2 separate regions of the Homo sapiens genome follow, and region 1 is linked to region 2. The links come from fine-mapping of genetic effects on gene expression. A gene starts in region 2. The other region holds a variant in brackets. All regions are shown on one strand. Distances are from middle to middle.

Region 1 (12,260 bases), 22 kb before region 2:
ACTCAGAGACCAATCCAGGTCTTCCCCAGGCACCTGCACCTGTGAAGGCCACAACTGCTAAGGGGAGGAGGGTAGGTGGCTAGAAAGGTCTAGGCTGGACTGGGCTGGGATCACTCACTCTCCACGTAGAACACGCCCACTTTGTCTGAGTCTGACATGGAAATGTACAGAACTATCTCGTATCCGGCGGGGAGGCGGTCGGGGCCTTTGGTCCGCAGGATCATCTGGGACATGTCCTTGAGATCTGAGGGACAGAAGGTGAGAATGAAGAGATCTATCTGTTGCTGGAGCCTCAGCTTCCCAATGCCTTTTACTTTGATAATCAGGAAAAAATCCCCATGGATGTGTATTATGGAAACTATAGAAAAGCATAAAGAGGCTGGGTGCTGTGGCTCACACCTGTAATCCCAGTGCTTTGGGAGGTTGAGGTGGGTGGATCACTTAAGGCCAGGAGACAAACACCAGCCTGAGCAACATAGCAAGACCCCATCTTTACAAAAATAAAAAAAATTAGCCACGCATGGTGGCATGTGCCTGTAATCCTGGCTACTCAGGAGGCTGAGGCAGGAGGATGGCTTGAACCCAGGGGGTTGAGGCTGTAGTGAGCTATGATCATGCCACTGCACTCCAGCTTGGGCAATAGAACAAGGCCTTGTCTCAAAAAAAAAAAAAAAGAAAAAAAAAGAAAAAGAAAAAAGCAAAGCATAAAACAGAATAAAAACCAGTTGTCATTTCCAACACTAGAGATGATTAACCTTTTGGGAATTTCCTTCTGGTCTATTTTCTTTTTATTCTTCTTCTTCTTCTTCTTCTTTTTTTTTCTTGAGACAGAGTCTTGCTCTGTTGCCCAGGCTGGAGTGCAGTGGCATGATCTTGGCTCACTGCAATCTCTGCCTCCTGGGTTCAAGTGATTCTCCTGCCTCAGCCTCCTGAGTAGTTGGGATTACAGGTGCATGCCACCACGCTCAGCCAATTTTTGTATTTTTAGTAGAGATGGGGTTTCACCATATTGGTTAGGCTGGTCTTGAACTCCTCACCTCATGATCTGCCTGCCTTGGCCTCCCAAAATGCTAGGATTACAGGTGTGAGCCACCACGCCCGGCCCTTGTCTATTTCCTATGGTTTTGCCTTTGGCTTTAAGCAAGAGTGGGAATTTGTGTCCACCATCCCCAGGAGGCCTGAGTCCACACCTGCCTCACCCTCAGCCCAGCCCAGGACTGGGCATGAATCTTTTCACTCCTCTCATCCTGCCCCCCAAGTGCAGGGCCTGCTGGCACCTTCCTTGCTGTAGACCTTCTCATCACGGCAGTCCTCCTTGGGCAACCAGGGTGTCTCTCGGTCACAGTTCACCAGCAGGATGGCCCCCTGGCCCTCGGGGCCCCAGGTCCAGGATGCCTACAGTGGCAGGAAGAAAGGTCAGTGCCCTCTTCTCTATGCTTGTATAGACCCCATGGGACACTGGAGAGATAGCCCCAGGATGAGGGTAAAGAGTAGCCGCCACCCACTGGGGCAGCTGTGACCTGGCAAATGTGAATCTCAAGACTGATGTCCACAGAGGATGAATGTGGGCATCAAAGGCAAGTTCAATAGAGGCACAGAGACAGGAAGGCTGACTGAGGCATTTATGGGCCTCCTGTCTGGTGCAGCTGGTGTCTGGTGTGGGTGGAGGCAGGGAGGTGGAGGCTGGCCAGAGAAATGAGCAGACAGACATTCTACCATGGGTCCCTAGGTCCCTAGGGGAGCTCAGGAGGAGACGCCTGGATGGATGCCACCCAGCTGTTTCCAGACACGCTCCTAGTGCTCCGAATGGGACCTGCATGGTGCTCCACTTTCTACACTGCAGCCATAGCACTACTAGAACAAACTCGGGCCAGATTGTGTTGCTTCCCTGCTTTAAGCCAGGTCAGGGGCTCCCAGTTGAGTTGGCATGAAGCCCTGATTCCTTGCTGTGGCTTGGAAGGCCTGGTGAAACTTGCCTTCCTCTCTGTCTCATCTCCTCCGCCTTGCCCCTCGCTCACTCTGCCCCACCCATCCCGGCGCCTTTCTGCTCCCAAAAGACTCAAGCTCCCAGGCCTTTGCCTATGCCAGTCCCTCTGCTCCTGTCCTGCCCCTTTCCACCTGGCCCACTCTACCCTTCCTCGGTTACAGCATGACTGTCTCTTCTTCCTGGAGGCCTTTCTGATTCTCTAGGACAGAGCAGCTTCCCCGGGTCCACACCTGGCCCTGTACACATCCTTTTTGGGAGGACTTAGGACAACTGTGATGACACAGCTATCCGAAACACTCCATATTTAATGTGGACCATGGGCTCCTTAAGGCCAGGGCTGTGTTTCTCTTGTTCTTTCTGTGTCCCCTGGGCCTGACCCGCTCCTGGAACATAAAAGATGCTCAGCAAATATTTATGGGATGAGTGAAGAAAATGTGAAAACTTCACCGGCCCAGATTTAAAAATTCTGGCCAAGTTCAGGCTCATGGGGATCGTGTGACTTTCCCAAGACTGCCCAGCCCCTTGGGGGAGGTTGGAAGCTGTCGCCCTGGGGCTGCTGGGTTTCAGAGGCCTCTGTGGAGTTCATTCTCATATGGCTTGGCCATAGACTCAGAGAATGAGTGTGCAGGGCTGGCCCTGGTCTCAGGCAAGCCTTGCTCACGATCCTAGAAGAAGGGACTTCCCCACATGGCTGAGAACCCTCTCCTGACCTGCAGAGAGTCAGGGTAGCAGGCTGCTAGGACCCAGGCTTCTCATCAGGCTGTGTTTATTTTACTTCGTAAGTACCCCTCTATGTATACTTTACTCTAGGCTTCAGAGTGTTATTATAAAAGTCACATATGCCCATGGCAAAAATTGAGATAATACAGAAGGGCAGAAAATGGAAAGCAGTTAGAAGCAACAGCCTGAATGTACACAGAGCAAGACTGATGGAGCCTAAAAACTAGGTTGAGGGAAAAGTACAAAACAGAATGTGATGGAGAACACCATGCCGTCTGCACAAATTAAAAATACATGCACACCAACCACACCACATGCCTCCTGAGAGTCACCAGAGCAGAAAGAGACACATTAAACCCAGCAAAATGGTCCTCTGTGGGGGAGCAGAATGGGAGTGGGGAATGCAAGATAAAAGAAAATAAGTAAATGAACGAGGGAACAAATGAATGAATGGTGAATGAATGCAAGAATAAATAGAAAGAGGAGAGGGGCCGTGCATGCACCAGCAGAGATAATACCACGCCTGGAACTGAGAATGATGAATGCGACCCTCTGTCCTGAGGGTCTGTCTCCCCCACCTCCCTAGTCTTAAAAGAACAGGCAAAATAATAAGAGCAAATGCCTTCACAGTGCTTCCTCTGTAGCGGGCACATTTATCCTTCCCAGCAGTTCCATGAATTGGGCGTCCCCATCATGGGATGGAGAAACTGAGACTCAGGAGCCTGCTCTGTTGCCGTCTCTAGGAGATGCCTGAGCTCCTCTGTGGGTTCCATCATTGGTATGCTGTGTGTCTGGGAGCCTGTCTTGGGCTTTAGTCTCCTGAGCTGTGAAATGGGAATTGCCTGCGGGATCTGGGGCTGTGCCCTCGGAAGCCCTGGGTTCAGGGTGGTGCCTGCCCTGAAAGCTAGGTACCTTCTTTGGGTTGTTCTTCTCCACCACACCATCCCGGTCTGCGTCCACATCCAGGGAGATCTCTGGGGAGAAGAGACATGGGTGAGTTGCTGAGCCTGCCAGGCAGGGCAGGGCAGGGGCAAGAGGAAGACCTGTGGGATTTGGGTGCGTCTCAGCCATTCATTTGGTCACGGGAAAGAGAGGACCTCGCTGAAGTCATCTTATGCAACCCCCTGCCTCAACATCCCACTACCCACTGGAGACCGTCAGCAGACACCGTGTGGACCTCGTAGCTTACGGCTGCAAGAGCTGCCATCGGGGAGGTCTGGGACCTCCTACCACTTCATTGTTCTGGCTGGGGGTTGGGGAATGATCCTCGCTGCACAGATCTGGATGCCTCAGTTCAGAGGTGAAGTCGCATGCCCAAGATCACATAGGGACGCTAGCAGAACTGGGGTACACAGTGCGGTTGGTCTGATTCATAGTTCATATTCTGAAAACTTAACAGGGATAGCATTCCCAAACTGCCTTTCTCAGTCTACCCGGGCATGCGCATAGGTGTGCACATGTGCACCTGGGTGTGCGTGTCTCTTTCTCTCCCAGAACTTCCAGTGGGCTAGATCCCACCTTCAAGGACTGAGGGTTTTACTGTGGGTGGGAAGCTGTCTCTAACCCCTCTTGGTCTGAGGTCACCTGTGAGTCTAGATGGAGGATCCAGGGCCAGGCCCCCACTTATCCCTTCTCTTGGTGAAGGGACCCTCAGCATCCCTAGGCCTGCCATGGAGACAGGCTTTGTGGAGACTGTAGGGAAGTGAAAAGGTTTAGTATCAGACAAGGTGGGGTTTAGACCCTGGTTCTCTGCTTATAAGCTGTGTGACTTTGGGCAGGTTAGAGGACCTCTCTGAGCCCCAGTTTCCTCACTTGTAACATGGGGCCCTTCCTGGTTACAGCAGATGCATTAGCTGCAATGGAAGGCACTACTGACATTTTTGAGCCAAATAACTCTTTGTGTGGGGGCAGCCTGTGCATTGTAGGATGTTTAACAGCACTCCTGGCTTCTACCTACCAGATGCCAGTAACATCCCTCCCAGTCGTGACAGCCAAAAATGTCTCCAGATATTGTCAAATGTCCCTTGGGAGGCGAAATTGCCTTGAGTTGGAGACGGATGAGGTCGAGTAGGGATGTGGTTGGGAAGGTGTTGGGAGTGTCACACACATGACATGTGCCCGTTCCAGGTCCCCAGAGCTGCCCGAGTGGGCTCATCTCACGCTGAGCATGACTTGGACCTGGTGGGCGCTGGGTGGTAATGAATGCATTCCTGGTTAGTCCCCGTGGCAGGCACACCCTCTGCCTGGAGGGCATGGAAAGGAGGGTCCTGGCACACGAAGTGCACTGATGTCACCCTTCTCTGGGCCAACCAAGCCCAGAGTCCAGAGATCACATTCAGGTCCTCCCTTTGCCTATAGCCTGCATACCCTAGACCTGCATGTGACTTTTCCAGTCTAGAAGGAGGCTGCAAGGGCGCCTGGCCCTTGAGAGAGGCAGTCTTGTGTGTCCCAGCCTCTGCAGCTGTGCGGTGAGTTAGGTGCTGTAAGGCATAATTTGTAACCTCCTCCCTCCGATCGCATTCACTCCACATTTCACTGCTGAGGAGCTACTGCTCCGGGAGCTGTACCAGGCAACGGGCAATGGAGGCACAGCACCTGCTCTCAAGGCGTCCACAGTCCCATGAGATGAATAGCATTGCTCTCGTTTCACAGGGCAGCAAACCCAGGTTCAGAGAAGCCACTTGTCAGCAAATCGGGCTGGTAATCTGGGAGGCTGGTGCAGGATAAGGACCCCAGGGGAAAGAAGGGAAGGCGGTACCACCAGGGGCTAAGAGCCTGGGGTGCAGGGGCAGGAATAATACTGGTTTTGG[T/C]TCCTGGACCTTTGTGAACTTTCCAGCCGGTCACGTCCACTGAATGCTGCCTTTCAGGGAGCTGGCTTCCTGAAACTCCTCCCTCGGAAGGAGCCGCAGGTCCAGCCTCTTTAGGGAGCCACTCTGTCCTTTTCAAGGTAAAAATTTCTCCCCTGCGGGCATCCTGCTCTGCAGCTGCACAGCGTTTTCCAAGGTGTGTTCTCTCGGCCACTCCAGGGGAGGCGTGACCACCCCCACCCCCTAACGATACAGATGAGGAAACCCAGGCCCGCAGCAGGGAAGTGACCACCGAAGTTCCCAGAACGCAGAGCCAGGCTCTCAGCAGGGCCTCGGACTCCGGCTGCCTGCTCTCTGCTGTTCCCTGCAATGAACCCAGGCTGACCTCCCTGCAAGCTGTTTCCAAAAGCCCAGCCCAAAGTCAAAGACACAAGACTTGCTCCCTTGAAGGTCATTCCCAGAGGAAGTGCCCATTTCCCCACCTTGGTAGCCCTGCGGCCTTCGTCTCTAGGCCGTAAGGTGACATTACATTGGGACTCCTTGTGGCGAGTCCATTAAAGCAGTGGGGCCGTGGGCTAGGAGAGAAATTATGGTGCAGTCTATACTGCTTCATTTCATTATGAATTCTTAAATGGAAACATTTTATTCATGTAATATTTGGACATAGTACAAACAAAATCAAATAAAATAGTAACACACTGTTTCTAAAGAAAGACAGCAGTTCCTTGTCCAGCCCTTCTTCTCAGCTGCCTAAGGCAACCTCTCTCATGCTTATTGCGATTTCCTGATTTACTGAATTCAGACAGGTTTCGTTACCTTCCTGTTACGAAATGTGGGCATTTCACAGTGTGGCTCCCTTATCGTCCTCCCAGCCTCTCACAGGGCTTCATAACTCCTCTCTGATGACCCATGACCTGTCCCCATAATCCACTGAAATGACCTTCTGGCCCCTTCACCCTCAGAGACCGCCCACCCTGTAGTCATGCCCATGGGACTTCGCCCCTGCAAGGCTTCCCCCAATGTCTGATTTAACTAGATTCCAGTGGGATGCTGCGGGTAGGGGCAGAGAACAGGGCTGGTGTGACCTGCCCAGAGCATTGCCTCTTGGGATGGCTCTGCCTTCCCGAGGGGGAGGAGGGAGAGGAGCTCTGCTTCAGGGCCTCCAGGCTCCAGACGACATTTCCCAGAGGCTCTGGATCCCACCTCAGTTCCCCAGAATAGCCCCAAGGCGTCAGGTGGCTCCTGGGTGTGGGGCAGATTGACGGGAAATGTCCCTAGGATTGGGTTCAAGGCAGTCTGCCCTGAGAATGAAGACACTGAAGCCTCAGCTCTGACCGAGAGGCACAAGCATTTTGGAGGGTCGCCAGAGAGTGGCAGGGTGCCTGGCCTTCTTGCCTTACTAAGCAGCTTGAGATGTTATGGGAAGGAAGGACACCCTCCCCCACAGCCAATCAGGGCAAGTATCCCAGCCTCTGGGGAGAAGGCATAGGATCAAGCCCCTTAGGTTGATGTTAAAATTTTCTGGGGCCCGCATATGTGTACTCCTTCCACTGCCAGGACCTCAAATAGGGTGGGATTCTTCCTCCCTCCCCACACCTCACCTCTTGCTCTCCCCCATCCCTCCCAAAAAATGGAAGTCTTTGCAAATCAACCCTAACCAGGGTCTTGAAGGTCCTTAGGGATTAATTAGCTCAAACCCCTTATTTTATAGTTTGTAAAAAGTGAGTCCTAGTGGGGGTGGTTACTTGTTAAGGTCACACAGCAAGTCCTTGGCGGGATTGGGACAAAGACCCAGAGCCTGATCTGGCCAAAGGAATCATGAATTTGCTCCCAAATCCCAGAAGGAAGAAGGAGAGACCATACATTTCTTTAACTTCACCCAGGCAGAGAGAAAATGCGGCCACCTCAAGAGCAAGAGAGAAAAGCAGGCGGAGCATTGACTAAGCACCCACTCTGTGCCGGGCCCTTCGCACACAACATCCCACTGAATCCTTGTAAACACCATGCAAGGCTGCTCTGTGAAGCGCATTTTATAGATGAGGAAGCCAAGGCTCAGGGGGATGATGTGACTTGTCACAAGCTGGCTGGAGGGGACAGAGAAAGATCTTAGGCTTACTTCTGTCTACCCAGAAGCCAAGGCTCTTTCTGCTCAATGTGGACTCAGGATAGGACCAGGGTGAGAGAGATTCAGATACATTTTTGTGCCCAGGGGACAGTCCCAGCCTCTCAAGATATTGGGGTTGGGGGGGGGCTTGCCTCTGAGGCGCTGCCCCTGAGTGATTGATTACTCAGGATGACGGGCTCAAGGGCTCCTGGGGCAGATGCTCGAGAAAAGAGAAAACCTAGAAGGGACAGAGAGAACAGTGGTCCCCAAGGGAAACCAGATTTTCACCAGGGTCTCTGTTGGAACAGGAAACAGAAGTTCAATGGTGTTAGTTTCTTTTTGCAATTGAATGACTGTCTCTTATTCTGTTTTTTGTTTTGTTTTGTGTTATTTTTGAGACAGAGTCTCATTCTGTCGCCGAGGCTGGAGTGCAGTGGCACTGTGTCAGCTCACTGCAACCTCTGTCTCCTGGTTTCAAGCAATTCTCCTGCCTCAGCCTCCTGAGTAGCTGGGATTACAGGCGTCCACCACCATGCCCGGCTAGTTTTTATATTTTTAGTAGAGACAGGGTTTCACCATGTTGGCCAGGCTGGTCTTGAACTCCTGACCTCAGGTGATCCGCCCACCTCGGCCTCCCAAAGTGCTGGGATTACAGGCGTGAGCCACTGTGCCCGGCCATGACTGTCTTTTATTCTGAGATTATGCCTTGCCTATTTTTTAAGAGTTAAAATGATAGTGATAGTTGATAGCAAATTTTTTTTTTTTTTTTTTTGAGACAAAGTCTCGCTCTGTCGCCCAGGCTGGAGGGCAGTGGCACCATCTTGGCTCACTGCAACCTCCACCTCTTGGGTTCAAGCAATTCTCCTGCCTCAGCCTCCTGAGTAGCTGGGACTACAGGTGCGTGCCACCACGCCCAGTTAATTTTTGTATTTTTAGTAGAGATGTGGTTTCGCCACATTGGCCAGGCTGGTCTCAAACTCCTGACCTCATGATCTGCCCACCTTGGCCTCCCAAAGTGTTGGGATTACAGGCGTGAGACACCGCGCCTGGCCACAAATTGTTTTATTGATGTATTTTTTTTTCTTTTTTTTGCCAAGCATCAAAGTTGTTAGTGTTCTCATTTTTTGGGGGGTGGGGGCAGGGGACATTTGATTGGCCCATGGAATCTAAATATCTGGAACTTGTGGCAGTTAAATAAATAATTATTAACAGACCTCGGAAGGATGAACTTGGTCACTTGTCGTGGGCACATGTGGCATCTTTTGGGACTCAGCCATGCCGCCAACTCTGAGCGGGCTTCCTCTAAGCACAGCTTTGTCATCTCCTAGTGAGGAGGAAAAGTCCAGTCCTGCCTCCTTATAGACGCTTATTTTGCCATCTATCCTAAGTCTGTCTTGCTTTGGTGGAAGTCTTGTTAATGGTGCAGTCAGCCTTCTGGGATCATCCTCATTTGACAGGTGTCAGGCCCCTGCCCTTCCTGCCCCCGTCCTCAGGTGTCCCTATCTTGGTGGGATTAGGTTTCCTCAGGGACTGTCATCTGAGACTGCCTGGATGCTGTGTGCATGCAAGGTTCACACACGTGCCAGGGCTCAGTACAACCCAGGAGTCTTTGTTGATCATCTGCCACCCTCACCAAGGTCATCCCGAGGTTCCCTACCCCAGGGCTGGGCACCTCCTTGGGACAGAAAGAGGGACAGGGGGACCAGCAACCAAGCCCATTTGGGAATTAGCCAAGAATGAGAAGGGCCCTGCTGCTAAGCCTGTTTAAGCAGCTGAGAGCACAGGGCTAGAGAGGAAGGGGCTGGCTCGGGAGTTAGTTGTATCTTGGGGAGATTCTGAGACCCCCCCTGAGAATGTGGGATAACTGGAATGATTGGCATCTCACCAACCATTTTCTGGAGATGTAGCTGCAGGCAAGTATTTGTTTTACCTTTTCTGAGCCTTGATTTTCTCATCTATAAAATGAGGATGATAATAATAATATCTATCCTTGGAATAGTTGGAAGAAGAGATTGAAATCGTGACGGTAAAACATTGAGTACTGGAGCCTGGCACACCATAGGTGCTCAATTAATATCAGGTGTTTACCATTCTCCCCCTCCTCCTCCTCATCAAAGTGCCCAGTGCAGCTCTAGACACACAGTAGGCCTGCAATAAGCAGGCCGCATCATTATTTTGAAAGCACTCAGCATGCAGTTGACTCTCAATAACTGGTAGTTCCCTTCCTCTGCCATGCGGCAACTCTGTCAATGTTAAACCAAGGTTGGATGAACAAAATGACCCTCTGAAATGTCCTCTTGGCTTTAACATTCTATGATTAAAAAATGAAATAAAATAGCATAAAAGTAATGCCTCAGTTTCAGGGGGTGGAGTGATGGAAAATTCAGATGATCACAGCCAAGGGTCCTGTAGAGCCAGGCTAGGCTCCACCTCCCTGGCATGCAGGCCTGGCACCCAGCGCAGGGCAGTGTGATGCAATGGAGAGAACCTGAGACAGGGATAATTCTGGGTTCTGGACTCAACTTGCCACCCAGTTGCTGTGTGATGTTGAATAAATTCCCTAACCTCTCTGGGCCTCACCATCCTGTGGATCAAATGAAGGACTTGGACTAGGTGAGTTAAGGACCTGGAGGCTGCATCTCTGCACCCTCGGGGCTGAATCTGGGGAGAACCAGGGGGCAGCTGGGATTGTCAAGAACAGCTGCTAGTTTTATAGACTGTGGCCATTCCCCTCACCATGAGAGGGACACTCTTCTCCAGGCTGCAGGGGAGAGGCAGGGGGAAACACACTTCACCTTTTTCTCTTTTAGGGCCACAGAGCCTGGGAAGGGGACCTTGACACTTGGGGGGGGGTTGCTGATGGATCAGGGAGTGCCTCTTCCTGCAGATAAGCCCCCACCCCAGTATGGAAGGACCGGGGTGGGGCACATGTGACATCCCTCCCCAGGCCTGTGCCATTCAGAAGAAGCTCCAAGTGCCAGGTCAGCCGCACTGAGAACCGCCTAAGTGCCCCAGAGAAGGACAACAGTGCCAGGCCCTGGGTGATGAAGGCACTGAGACGGCAACCATGCCAACTCACCAATGGCTGTGAGGAAGAGCCCCGCCTGGTCGATGGGAATGCTCCCTTCCTCGTCATAGTAGTTGACGGTGACCTTGGTGGGGAGGGGGCACATTGGAGTAGAGAGAAAAGAGAGCAGAGATCACAGATCACAAGCAGGAAAACCTGAAGCAACTGCTGTCCCTCACAGCTTGTCAAGCCAACCCTCTCCAAACATCAGAACCCTCTCCTCCAGGAAGAACTCCTGGGTTGGTGGGCGGTTTCCCTCAGGTAACTGAACTAGACTGTGGACTCCCCTCCTGCTGGCTGAGAGGGCAGTTAGGATGCTGTCTGCCTTCCTGTGCCACTGTGTGCATTCTGCTGCCTGGGGTCCCCCATATCTGCCATGTTGCACGTCTAGTGCCCACTGAGGGGACAGGGCTGAGGCTATTTTCTTTGGACCATGTTCAATGCCATCACTGTGATGGGGCACATGGTAAAGTTCATAATTACGGAACCCAGAAAGGAGACAGTTCTGGTCTCAGCCTCACCACTTAGGCAAATCACCCATGGATGTTCAGCACCCCATTTTACAGATAGACCAAGGACACTTGTGACTGTAAGCTCCAATGATTCTATGGTTCTGAGCCTCTAAACTTTCTATCACTCAGCTGTCTATAATTTTCATCCTTTACGAAGCCATCGTTCCATGGTCTAACCCCACAACATCCACATGGCTACCGAGCACTGGAAATGCGGCTATTCTGAACGGAGGTGTGTTATAAGGTGTAAAACTCACACTAATTTTAAATTTGGTATGGAAAAAGAATATAAACTACCAGCCTGGGCAATATAGTAAGACCTGTCTCTAAAAAAAAAAAAAAAAAAAATTAGCTGGGCACGATGGCAGGTGCCTGGAGTCCCAGCTACTCGGGAGGCTGGGGCAGGAGGACTGCTTGAACCCAGTAGCTTGAGGTTGCAGTGAGCTATGATCGCACCACTGCACTCCAGCCTGGGAGTCAGAGTGAGATCCTGTCTCTTAAAAACAAACAAACAGGCCGGCCGCGGTGGCTCACGCCTGTAATCCCAGCACTTTGGGAGGCCAAGGTGGGCGGATCACAAGGTCAGGAGATCGACAGCATCCTGGCTAACACGGTGAAACCCCATCTCTACTAAAAATACAAAAAAAAAAAAAAATTAGCTAGGCATAGGGCAGGCGTCTGTAGTCCCAGCTACTCTGGAGGCTGAGGCAGGAGAATGGTGTGAACCTGGGAGGTGGAGCTTGCAGTGAGCCGAGATCGCATCACTGCACTCCAGCCTGGGTGACAGAGGGAGACTCCGTCTCAAACAAACAAACAAACAAAAAACAAACAATTTTGTTAATATTTTTTATATTGATAGCATGTCAAAATGATAATATTTTGATAGATAGGGTTAAGTAATAGATATTAAGACAATTAATTTCACCTGTTTCTTTTTGCCTTTTCTTTTTTTTTTTTTTTTTTTTTGAGACGGAGTCTCGCTCTGTCGCCCAGGCTGGAGTGCAGTGGTGCGATCTCGGCTCACTGCAAGCTCCGCCTCCCGGGTTCACGCCATTCTCCTGCC
Region 2 (12,260 bases):
CCTGGGCTCTGCACCCCACAGTTTACTGGCTGTGCCATCCTGGACAAACACTCCTTCCTTCAGTTTCCCCAGCTGCGAAAAGGGGACAATAATTGTACCTAACTCATAAAGTTGTTGCAAGGTTTAAATACGTAAATTATTACATGTCCGTGAGATGAGCATGCAAAGTGTTGAGAAGCCTGCACAAAATAAGTGTTCAATAAATGTCAACTAGTAACATTAAGAAACGATGAGAAGTTGTGCAAAGAAAAAAATGTGATGAAACAGAGTTCTCGGGACTCAGGGTAGGGCACCACGACATGGGGTAGTCAAAGAAAGCTTCCTGGAGGAGGTGACATTGGAGCTGAGACTTGACTGATGAAAGTCAGGCTTGTGGGGATCTGGGGGATGGTGTTCCAGGCAGAGGGAACAGCAACTGCAAAGGCCCTGAGGTGGGAATGAGCTTGGCACAGCCAAGGGCTAACAGCATCCACAAAGCCAGCGTGGCCGGAATGGAGTGTGTGCTGAGGAATTGCTAGAAGAGGAGATCAGTGAGGTAGGGCCTGGCACACTATGGGGAGGGGAGCCCATAGCACCCCAGGCCCCCATCATGGAAAACTGGATCTCAGACCCTCCTGGCCTTTGTCCTAATGACACTTTTTAAAAAAGCAAATACATCTCTAGCCTTCACACCAACCAAGAGACAGAAAGTCTGGGAGTGAGTTTGTGCCAAAGTCTAGGAGCGCCTGCCTGATACCTTCTTCCTATCTTCTGCCAGCGAGTTATGGGCAAATTATTACTATTTACTTGATATTACTAGCTGACATTTATCTTCTTTCTGTCTTCTACTGGGACAATGGCTGGTCAGCCTCTGCCTTGGGGAATCCCAGGGAAGGGAATCCTCCCACCTCCACCTCACAGACGCAGCTGGAACCTCTGCACAGGCAAAGGGACAATGTTAAGATCATTCCAGTGTCCTGAAGCTCCTGCAGACCTCAGGATCTGGATCCTGGCTCCTGTACACCAGGGAGGAAAAGAAGAGCCCTGCCTTCTCGAGAACTCTCACTGACAGAGGCATAAGCCGAGGGAGGAACAGAAGAAGCCATTCCCAAGGCCCAGCTTGTGGGCAGAGAGTGACCACCCTGCTACCTACTTTACTCCGAGGCTGCCCTGTCCCTAATAATCCTTCCAGACTCTGGGAGTGTCCATGCCTCCAGGGCTCACAAGAGGTGGGTGGCCAGGATGGAACCAACCTAGGGACTCCCTCTGTGCTCTCTTTCCAACTTCAAGCCCAAATCAGATGGGGACCCAGGCCAGCCCCACTGAAGAAGTGACTGTCGGCTAAAGGGACCACCGGAGGAGATTGTGTGGGCCAGGTGTACCTGTGCCAAGACTAAGATGAGTATATTTGGGAAGAGCAGAAGGAAACAGCGAGTATCTTTAACAACAATCACAAAGTACAATTTCTAACAAACACCCTACTTCCTTCTTTCTATGTATCTATTCATTGCTTGCTGGAGACTAGCAGTCAGAATGAGGCTAGGTCAAGGCATCCATCCCCAGGGGGGCCAGTTTTGCTGGGAGAGCGTGGGTGGCCCAGAGCACCCCTGCCCATGGTGGCCTGGATGACCCCTCATAGGGCAGCATAGTGGTCAATTGTTCATCACTGTGACCCTGAGTGTACATCTTCTATTGAATACAAGATCCTTCCTCCTGTTCTCTGATCGACCCCCATTTGGGTCAGTGGAGACTCAGAGAAGTGAAGCGATTTGCTCAAGGTCACACAGCCCGTGGATGGAAGCTGGTAGGGCAGTGCCTGCCAGGACCACAAGGTCTATTGAGGAATGAGGCTGGGGAGGCCCCTGCTATGTGTCTGGAGGGGATCCTGTGTGCCAGCATCACAGGAAAGGGAGTCCAGAGCCCTTGGGAAAGGGAGTGGGTGCTGAGGCCGTTTCGCTCACCTTTGCGACTCAGAAGGAGTGAGGGTCAGGATGCCACTCCGTAATTAACTGGGCCCAGCACCCCCGGGCCTTGTTCCTTGGGGTCTACTTGGAGGCTCTGGGGGCATCACTTGGGGTCTTGAGCCAGGACCTGTGTCCGGGCAGCAAAGGACTCAGGGAAGAGTGGAGGGCCAAATGGGAGTTGGTGAAGTCTCTGGGGACAGTGGGCTCGTGGCCAGGGTGGAAGAGACACAGGCTGAGAGGGCCGTCCAGTTCAACCCGCTGGTTTTAGGGTCACATAGGACAGAGTGGGGTATAAGAGCATGAGTTCTGAGTCAAACAGACCTGGACCTGAGTCCTGTGTGACTCTGGACAAATGGCTTCATCTCTCTGAGCCTTACCTTCCTCATCTGTAAAATGGGATGATCAATGAACCCTCCAGGGTCTATGGTGAGGAAGAAAGGAGGTGGTGGGTTCAGTTCCTAAGTGCCCACTAATACCTCCTCCTGTTATCAATACTGGCAGTTGCTCTCATTACTACAGGTAACTCGAGTCACAATAGCAGTAACAACTCAAGCTCCTTAGTCCTGGAAGAGGCTTCCTTCCACTGGACCAGTGAGTCTCAGCTGGCTGTGATTTTGCCCCCTGCCAGGGGACTGCTGGCACTGTCTGGCAACATTTTTGGTTGTCACAATTTGGGGGTTGCTACTGGCATCTAGGGGACAGAGGTCAGGGATGCCACTAAACATCCCGCTACAACAAAGAAATATCGAGCCCAAAATGCAATAGTGCGAGATTGAGAAACTCTGCACTAGACCTGTTCTGTCCCGGTGTCACTGGCTCACGGTGGCCAGTGAGCACCTGAGATGCACTCAATCTACGCTGAGATGTGCTGAAGTGTAAAATGTGCACTGGATTACAAAGACTTAGCATGAAAAAAGGAAGGTAAACCATTTCCTTAATAATTTTTATATTGATTGCATGTTGAAATGATAATATTCTAAAATATTGGGTTAAACAAAATATATTATTAAAATTATGCCTGTTGTTTTAACTTTAAAAAAGTGTGGACTACTAGAAGATTTAAAATGCAATTGTGGTTTTGTTGTGGTTCAAACTGGACTTTTCTGGACAGTACTGGTCTAGAGCGCACTGCCCCTCTCTGTGGTGGTGGAGAACCTTAAGTGCCGGTGGGGGTTAGGGTCTTTGTGGTCGTTGAGACAGGACAAGGGGAATCGTCACACTGCTGCCCCCTGCTAGAGGGAGGCTGAGTCCATATCTGCCCCACTCTGTGCCCCTACCCCAGCTGGGCCTCTCTTTGCCAGGATAGAGCGATAGCAGGGCGCCTGAGCAGGAACCCTCCTTTGCTCCCCACCCCCGACTGGGAGGATCATGCCAGCTTTTCAGGCGGCACCAACCATGCCCCAGCAAATAAACAGGTGGGTATGGTGACAGCTGAGGCTTAGAGACCTGAGCACTCTGGCTCCGCGCCCACTCCCTAGCGGTGCCCAGTTCAGGGCTGGGGGTGGGGAAGGCAGGGGAGCTCTTGCACCCCACCAGAGCCTGGACCACCCTCCACTGCTGTGTTCTTGTTCTCAGAGACCACCCAGTCCACCTCTGAGGTTTACATGGGGGACAACTGAAGCCCAGGCCCAGGGGAAGGCAGAGGTTGAGGCCAGGGACAGAGGCATGGAGTGGGTCCCTAGTCCTGGGGCTTGTTGGTATCAGCGTGGCCAGTGCCTCTGCAGCGGTGGCAGGAGACTGGTTGGGCAGGTGGGAGGGCTGCCAGGGCTGTGTGGGGAGACACATGATGGGTTGGTGGGGGCCTGGGAGAGGCAGGGTGCTCCAGGTGTCAGGATGATTTGAGAGCCATAAACCACGATGGTGCCTCCGTGTGAGTTCAGCTTGAGGCAGAGAGGATAGGGGACTCATCCGGTGTCAGCACAGGGTCCCACCTCAGAGTCCTGCATGCTCCCTGCCCCCAGCACTGACCCCTCCAACCCTAGCAATGGGGAGGTTTTAAATGCTTGGAATAGAGGGGGCAGATCAAACCCCAGCATAACCCCACCCTTTCATTCACACCAGCCACACCTTTCCAAGGCCCCGTCCCATTACTCAGGGAGACAGATCATTGGACTTGGCTGCTTTCTGGGATTGCGGGGGGAGTGGTAGGGCCCTACCCTACCTTCAGCTGTCTCGGACATCCCGCACTCTACCAAGTTCTTGGACAGAGAGAAGGGGAGGGAGCAGAACTCTGAATCAGGATCCTTTTCCAACAAAGTACCCCGCTATACACCCCAAGTCCCCGTCGTCAGCTGGGTAGAATATTGTCCCTCTGTGGTCTCAGAATGAAGTCAGGGGAAGGTATCTGGGGACACGGAGCTCAGGGCCAGTGCCTGGGGACAAGCAACCACCAGCAGCCCCCACAGGGCGAAATCGGAGCCTGAGTAACCTCCAGGGCCGGATTCAGCCTCAGGGCAGCTCCCTTCGGGTCCTGCCCCAGTCCCCGGCAAGTCTCCGCGGAAGCTCCGCTGAACTGGGAGTGGGAAGCAGGAGAGGGGCTGGGTTGAGGTGGGTCCGAGGGGAAGTGAGGTGCGGAGGGGAAGTGAAAGGGGAGAGGACGGCAGGGAAGCTGAAGGGGTGTGAGGTCCCCCGGGAGGAGAACTGGAGAGGGCCAGACGGAGGGTTACGGGTGAAAGGGAGGGTCTGTGAGGGAGCTGGGGCTGAGGCTGTGTTAGGGGGTCTGGGAGAGTCTCAGGGTTTCTGGAAGGTGGACACAAGGTTCGGGGGTTGTCAGGTTTCTGGATGAGATTCTTAGGATTTCTGGGCTCGGGGGCTCGGGATGAGGGACAACTCGGGCTGGACAAAGGCTGTCCACGTCCCCGAGTCTGAGCGCGTCTCAGGATTTCTGGGCTCGAGATCTCGGCCCGGGCATCACGGTGGGCCGGCTCACCTGTAGACATCGGTCCAGAGGTAGGTGCCCAGCACGTACACCGCCTCCACGCGGCTCCCGTACTGCAGCCGCACGGTCCGCTCGCGCAGCATCCTCCCCGCCGCAGTGCCCGCGCTCGCTGGTCCGGGGCGGCCGGGAGCACCTGCAGCAGGTGCGCCTTCTCCAGCAGCCTGCGCCCCACGGCCCCGCGCGCAGCCTTATCCAGCGGCCGGTGGGCGGGGCGGCCCGCCCCAGTCCTCTCGCAGTGGGCTGCGGGCCTGTCCGTCAAGCGTGGTCCCGCCCCTAACTCGTCCCGCCCCGCTGAGGTCGTGGCGAAGTCATCAGGGACCAGTTTTGTGCTTTCCATGGTTGGATTGTCATTCTTTCATTCGACAAACCTTCGGTGGGCGCCCAGGTGTTGGAGGGCCCTAGCTCCCCTCCGGACGCCCCAGCCCAGTGGGGCTGAAAATGCAAATGTGGGAACACAAAGAGGGTGCCCTAACCCAGCCTGGGGGCCAGGAAGCCTTCCCAGAGAAGACGATCCTGGAACCTTCTTAAAGGAGGCGTTTGCAAATTAAAGGCGAGGAGAGGGAGCTGCCTGTGCAAAGCCGGGTGCAGCCCGGTACCCCCATCCCCCAACAGTCAGATGAACCTCACCATAGAGAAAACGGGAAGCGGTGGGGATGGGGAACCCGGCAGCTGAGGGAGACCAGGACGCCAAGCCAAGGCATTGGAGGGTGGGAGATGGGAGCCTGGAGTGGTTGTCTCCGCGAGCCGTGGTCGGGTGTGCTCGTGAAATGGGTCATTCTGGGCTGGGGAGGGGCAAGGAAGCCCCTGGCTGTGGCCAGAGCTGGAGAGGTGGGGACTGACCCGGCCACTGCTTAGGGACTGGGATTTTGGTGGCACCTGGTGACTGATAGGATGTGTGGGTGGAGGGAGAGGAGAGGGGTAAGGATTAGGGCCCCGGTTCTGGCCTGGGCCACCAAGGGAAGGGGGGTGCCACCCAGAGGTCATCGTGTGTCTCACAGAGGCTGAGATGTAGGATGACAATCAGTGTGGGCCTCGGCCAGCCCCTCCCATGTCCCAGCCCTTCCCCTGGGACCCAGTGGGAGTGCTGTTCAGACACATACATCAGCCCTGTGTGAGGAAGTGGTCTTTGGTAGGTGAGGACAGAAACTGAGGGGGGGTGGGCAGAGGCCGTGGGAGGGAAGGAGTGGGGCGGAGGGGATGTGTGTTTGGGAAGGAGTTAGAGCTGATGGAAGATGGAGCTCCAGGAACGGGTGCCCCCAGACAAGAGGGGTGAGGCCCACAAGTGCCCAGTGCTGATATACCCAGCCCTTGGACTCCAACCTTCTCCCTGAGGCGGCCCAAATTAGGAGGTGGTGAAGAGCCCAGCTGCTTCTGAGTGGCAGGGATTTGGGAGGAATGTGAGTGGGGAAGAGGGAAGGCCCGAGTTTTAGCCAGGAGGTCATTTGTCCCCCAAAGGCACAGCTCACAGACCCAGGGAGAGGCCAGTAACTGTTTTTTTTTTTTTTTTTTGAGACAGAGTTTTCCTCTTGTTACCCAGGCTGGAGTACAATGGCGCCATCTCAGCTCATTGCAACCTCCGCCTCCCAGGTTTAATTGATTCTCCTGCCTCAGCCTCCCAAGTAGCTGGGATTACAGGCAGGCACCACCACACCCAGCTAATTTTGTATTTTTAGTAGAGACGGGGTTTCTCCATGTTGGCCAGGCTGGTTTTGAACTCCTGATCTCAGGTGATCTACCTGCCTCGGCCTCCCAAAGTGCTAGGATTACAGGCGTGAGCCACAGCGCCCGGCCGAGGCCAGTAACTTCTGATGAACTCCAGGCACCCGGCTGAGCACATCCTCCAATCAGGAGGAATCTCTCGGGTGGCCACCTGCCAAACTGGGACAAAACTTGTGTAGCTTGGAGAGACTTCGAGGCGCCCCCAGAGGTGAGCTCGTGTCTGGGCACCCCTCTGCCACGAGTGACTTTGGAGCCCTTACTGTGTGACAGATAACGGGCACCCACCAGGGTTCTCACCTTCCTGGGGCTCTAACTTTCATTTGACTCATGGGGAGACTGGGGCCAGAGTGGGGGAGGACACTGTACCCCCCACTGACGGAGACCCCGGGCAGCTCATAACAGGACACTGGGCAAGATAGTGATAACATCAGACCGCAATACCCAGGGGAGCTGGAGTAAGAGCGGGCACTTACTGCTTTCTTTCTGTGGGTCAGGCACTGTTCCAAGCGGCTCTTTTCATGTATTAGAGTTAGATCACTGAACCCTCCCAGTAACTCCGCCACTTTACAGATGAAGAAAGTGAGCTGTGAGGAGGTGGGGGAATTGACTCTGGGTTGCAGAGCTCCTAAGAGTGGCAGAGGGAGGAGCTTGCAGGGCCACTGGGGTGGAGGCAGGGGGCAAGGCCGAGTGAGGGCAGGGGCAGAATGCTGTCCATGCTTTGTAGATAAGGAAGTCGCAGTTCTAGGCCCAGCTCTGCTTTTGTGCCGCCTTGGGCCAGGTACCCTGCCATTCGGAGCCCCATTTTCTGCCTCTGTGAAGTAACTGATCCCTCAGCACGGTGTAAGGACGGTATTAAACGAGACAACAAGGTGCAGAAAATACTAGCACAGAGCCTGGCACAAGGCTCAAGAAATGAAGCCCCCTCCCCTTAAAAACCCAATTCAGACCTGGCCACCCACACTCAGGACTCCTGCCCGGGCTCAGGCCATCATGTTGGGCCCAGAGCCTGGTTGATGAGACAGGAGTTTCCTGGTGCCCAGAGGTTTAAAATAGCTGAAGTAGTCACAGCTGTTGGTGGATTCAGGGCCGGAGGTCGCATGCATCACGGCTGCTCCCACCTCTCCCCTGGGATCCGGAAGAGCCACAAAGCATCTCACGGTGTCTTTTGGGGACTTAGCTTAGGCCAGTTCCTGGCACAGACCCGCACCCACCCCTCCAGCAAGCGCCCCTGCCAAGCCTGTGGGCAGGGTGCCTGGGCTAAGAGGGGCTCTTCTGAGCTGTTTTCTGTTAGGTTCCTCCACTGGGTGTGGGGTCTCCGGGCCAGGCCTTGGGGGAACCAGGGAGGCCACTCAAACTTCGACAAGCCTGCTTTGAGGAAACAGACAGCTTACTGAGAGCACTATACATACAATAATTTAAAAAGAAAGAAAAAAATGCACAAGTATTACCTGGTCATTGTGGAAAAGTTAAAAAAAATATGATCACCCATGACCCTAGTACCAGAGATCAGTCTGAATCTATGAGTATGATCTGGCCGGGCTGCCCACAGGCTGCTGTGGGGCAGCACACTTCCTGAGCCCTTGCGCCATGCCAGGAGCTGTTCAGAGCCCATTCACACACACATCTCAGCCTGTTTAATCCTCACGACAGCCCTGTGAGGTGAGAGCTATTATTATCTTCCATCTGCACAGAGGCACCAACCAGCCTGCAGTGAAGAGCATGGACTTTGGTCTTGGTGGACCTGGGGTCAAGTCTGGCTCTGCCCCTCACTAGCTGGGGGCCTCTCTGGGCCTCAGTTTCTTCTTCTATAAAGGAGATACTAGGAATTGTTATAAGGAACAAGGAATAACAAGATGATATCCAGTAAGGTACTGCACATCGTGGCCTGGCACAGACCCAAGTTCCAGTAGACGGTAGTTATTTCCTATGCGTATATAGTTATTTTAAGTTTTTGTAAACATGGGCTTCTGACTACATGCTGTTTGATAACATACTTCAAAGCTTCCACAATGTGAGAGGCTGGGCTGGCTGTGGCCAGGTCACACAGAGCATTGTAAGTCGTGGAAAAGGCTTTGGGGCTTTATCTTTATGGGGTCATGGGGGAAGCCTGGGAAGGACTTTGGAAGGTGTCAACGGCACGATGTACACTTTAGGAAAATCACTCTGGCTGCTGTAGGCAGCTAAATTTGACAGGAATTCTGGCAGGAGACCAGAGAAAGGAAGAGGTCGGGGTCTGGGCCATGGATCCCCAAAGCAATCCTTCTGTGGCCAGGGATCGCCCCAACCCCTGACTCTGCACCATGGGGACCTGCAGTCATACCCTCAAGAGCAGATCCCCATAACCCTGGCCCTGCCTGGCCCCGTCACATTCCCTTTCCCCTGGCAAAGCCCACCCTTTGGTCTCACTCCCTTGAGAAGAGTCTCTGGGATGGGGGCGTTGATTCAGCCTCTGCCTCAGCTCTCGGTCCTGAGAGACATCGTGCTCAGAGGCGGGGAAGGGCTGGGGTGCTCCATTGTTCTAATACTGCGTGAGTTCAGAATGAGGAAGTCATGTCTCTTCTGCGTGCTGCTGTGGCTGTACCCCACTCGGGGGTACATTTATATATGCAGAGAGAGAGATTTATTTTAAGAAATTGGCTCACATGGTTGTGGGGGCTGACAAGCCTGAAATTTGTAGAGCTGGCCAGTCAGAAATGGGAGAAGAATTGATGTTGCGGTCTTGAGTCTGAAATCTACAGGTTGGAAACAGCACGGTTTCTATGTTGCATTCTGGAGGCTGAATTGCCTCCTCTTTGGGAAACCTCAGTCTTTGTTGTTAAGGCCTTCAACTGATTGGATGAGGCCCACCCACATTTTGGAGTGCAATCTACTTTACTCAAAGTCTACTGATTTAAACGTTGATCACATCTGAAAAATATCTTCACAGCAACATCCAGACTGATGTTTGACTGGATGATGGGGTGCCATAGCCTGGCCAAATCGACACAGAAAATTAACCATCACCATGCTGAAAGATGGGCTAAGGCTTTCATTCATTAGGTCACCATTTATGGAGCATTTATTCCCTGCCAGGCACCTGCGCTAAGCACTGTGTGTATGTTATCCCATTGAATCCTTGCTACAACCCCAGAAGTAAGTATTTTTCTTACCCTTATTTTATACATCCAAGGGTAAGATGACTTGTCCGGGCCAGGGTTCTACCCTTAGTCAGTGAAGCAAAGCTAGAAAGGTGAATTCTGGAGAAGATGTAATAAGCCAGTTGTCTGAGGGGCTGCCAGGGGGCCAGAGTAAGCCTGGGAGGTCCTAGACCCATGCTTTCCAACATGTAGCCACTGCCAGACAAGGTTTATGTGGCTAATCTGAACTGACACATGCTGTAGGTGTAAAACAGTGGTCCCCAACCTTTTTGGCACCAGGGACCTGTTTTGTGGAAGACAGGCTTTCCATGGATGGGGGTGGGGATGGTTTCGGGATGATTCAAGCGCATTACATTTCTTGTGCACTTTATTTCTATCATCACATTGTAATACATAAGGAAACAATTTTACAATTCACCGTAATGTAGAATCAGTGGGGGCCCTGAGCTTGTTTTCCTGCAACTAGATGGTCCCATCTGGGGGTGATGGGAGACAGTGACAGGTCATCAGGCATTAGATTCTCATCAGGAGCTCACAGCCTAGATCTCTCACCTGCGCAGTTCACAATAGCATTTGTGCTCCTATGGGAATCTAAAGACAAAACTTCCCTTGCTAGCCCAATGCTCACCTCCTGCGGTGTGCCTGGTTCCCAACAGACCACAGACTGGTAATGGTCCATAGCCTGGGGGTTGGGGACCCCTGGTGTAAAATACAGATTTCAAGGAGTTACAAGGAGAAAAAGATGGTAATTTTAAAAATAATTGACTCCATGTTGGAATGATAATATGGTGAATGTATTTCATTAAATGCAAATGTATTATTAGCTGGATGTGGTGGCTCAAGCCTGTAATCCCAACACTTTGGGAGGCTGAGGAGGGAGGATCACTAACATTCAGGAGTTTGAGATGAGCCTGGGCAACATAGCAAGACCCTGTCTCTACAAAAAAATTTAAAAATTAGCCAGGCATGGTGATGCACCCCCTGTACTCCCAGCTACTTGGGAGGCCAAGGTTGGGGGAATCTCTTGAGCCCACGAGGTTGAGGCTGCAAGTGAGCAGTGACCGTGCCACTGCATGCCAGCTGGGGCGACAGAGCAAGACTCTGTCTCAAACAAACAAACATCAAAAAGCCCAAAGACGTATTGTTAAAGTTAATTGTACCTATTTATTTCAGCTTTTAAAAATGTGGCTACTAGAAAATGTGGTTACCTGTGAGGCACACATTTGTGGTTGCCATCATTTTTATTTTTCTTTCTTCCTTTTTTTTTTTTTTTTTTTTGAGACAGAGTCTTGCCCTGTCACCCAGGCTGGAATGCAGTGGCATGAGCTTTTCTCACTGCAACCTCCGCCTCCTGGGTTTAAGTGATTCTCATGCCTCAGCCTCTGGAGTAGCTGGGACCACAGGCACGCGCCACCATGCCCGGCTGATTTTTGTATTTTTAGTAGAGACAGGGTTTCACCATGTTGGCCAGGCTGGTCTCGAACTCCTGACCTCAAGTAATCTGCCCACCTCGGCCTTCCAAAGTGCTGGGATTACAGGCGTGAGCCACTACGCCCGGCTGGTTTGCATCATTTTTCTATGGGTGGTGCAGATCCAGACGCCTCTAAATGGTTAGGCAGGGACTTGTTCATGATTTTTCTGGGTCGAGCCTGGGTACAGCTGGGCACAGTAGATAAATATTTGGTGAAGAGAGTGGAATTGCTTCAGAGTTCCCAGAGGGCAGCAGTGGGGTTAATAGCAAGAGTTAAAACAGGGAACACGCGAAGGCCGCAAGAGGCGGAGACCACAAGGTGGCGCCAGATCCCCATCTTGGAAGCAGGGAGGCGGCGCTGGCCGGCCTGAGCCCGAGAGATCAGAATGCCTCCGCCTCTGTCCCACCCTGCTCAGCACCTTCCTTTAGCTTTTGGGACCCTCTTTTTCCTGGTGGTTTGGGTCAGAATTCAGGGGCCACCTTTGTGTGAGGTCAGTGGCAGGTCCCTTAGAGTGGGAACTTCTCGCTGGACAAAGGGGCGACTGAAGCTCAGAGAAGGATGAGAGGGGCCCAGAGAGGGGCAGTGACCGGCCGAAGGGCGCAGAGCCAGTTGGTAAAAGAGGGAGGTCTTTTGTGTCTCATCCTTCAGGCCTGTCCTGTTACCTCAGTGCCTTTGTCCTGTGAGCCTGGGTCGTTGATTCGTTTTAAAAATCACTTGATAAACAAATCACAGAGTCAGGTGCTGTGCGGGTGGGAGTGGGGACACAGGTCCATCCTTATGAGCAACCTAGCAGGAGCAAAAAACATGCACGGATGCTCACAAACACATGCACACACACAACATGCACACACGCACATACACGTGCACACACACACGCACGCATGCACACACATGCACACACACACACCCTTGTGTAGGAAGAACATCACGCAGTCATTTACAACCACATTGGAAGAAGGCGCTATAATCATTTCTGCCATACCCCATGATGTGGTCACATTTTCCATCTCGAGAATCAGTCCACCTGGATTGACATCCTAGCCCTTCCTGG

What was found. PIP is the estimated chance that this variant, and not a neighbour inherited with it, causes the effect.
Region 1: its variant is fine-mapped to the expression of PADI2 in whole blood (INTERVAL, PIP 0.92).

The regions. Positions count from the first base shown.
Region 1 is chr1:17,092,290-17,104,549 of GRCh38, forward strand. It overlaps PADI2 (peptidyl arginine deiminase 2), which reads right to left. Exons shown (of 16, transcript NM_007365.3): 3 at 10,698-10,770; 4 at 3,620-3,681; 5 at 1,278-1,395; 6 at 119-244. Among named protein-coding and RNA genes, the nearest start is that of PADI2, 21 kb to the right of the region's middle. The variant T/C (reference allele first, on the strand shown) is at 5,518.
Region 2 is chr1:17,114,408-17,126,667 of GRCh38, forward strand. PADI2 (peptidyl arginine deiminase 2) reads right to left here and starts at 5,044. Exons shown (of 16, transcript NM_007365.3): 1 at 4,873-5,044. The coding sequence starts at 4,964. RefSeq lists silencers at 4,854-5,063, 7,586-7,769, 11,578-11,667 and an enhancer at 5,635-6,169.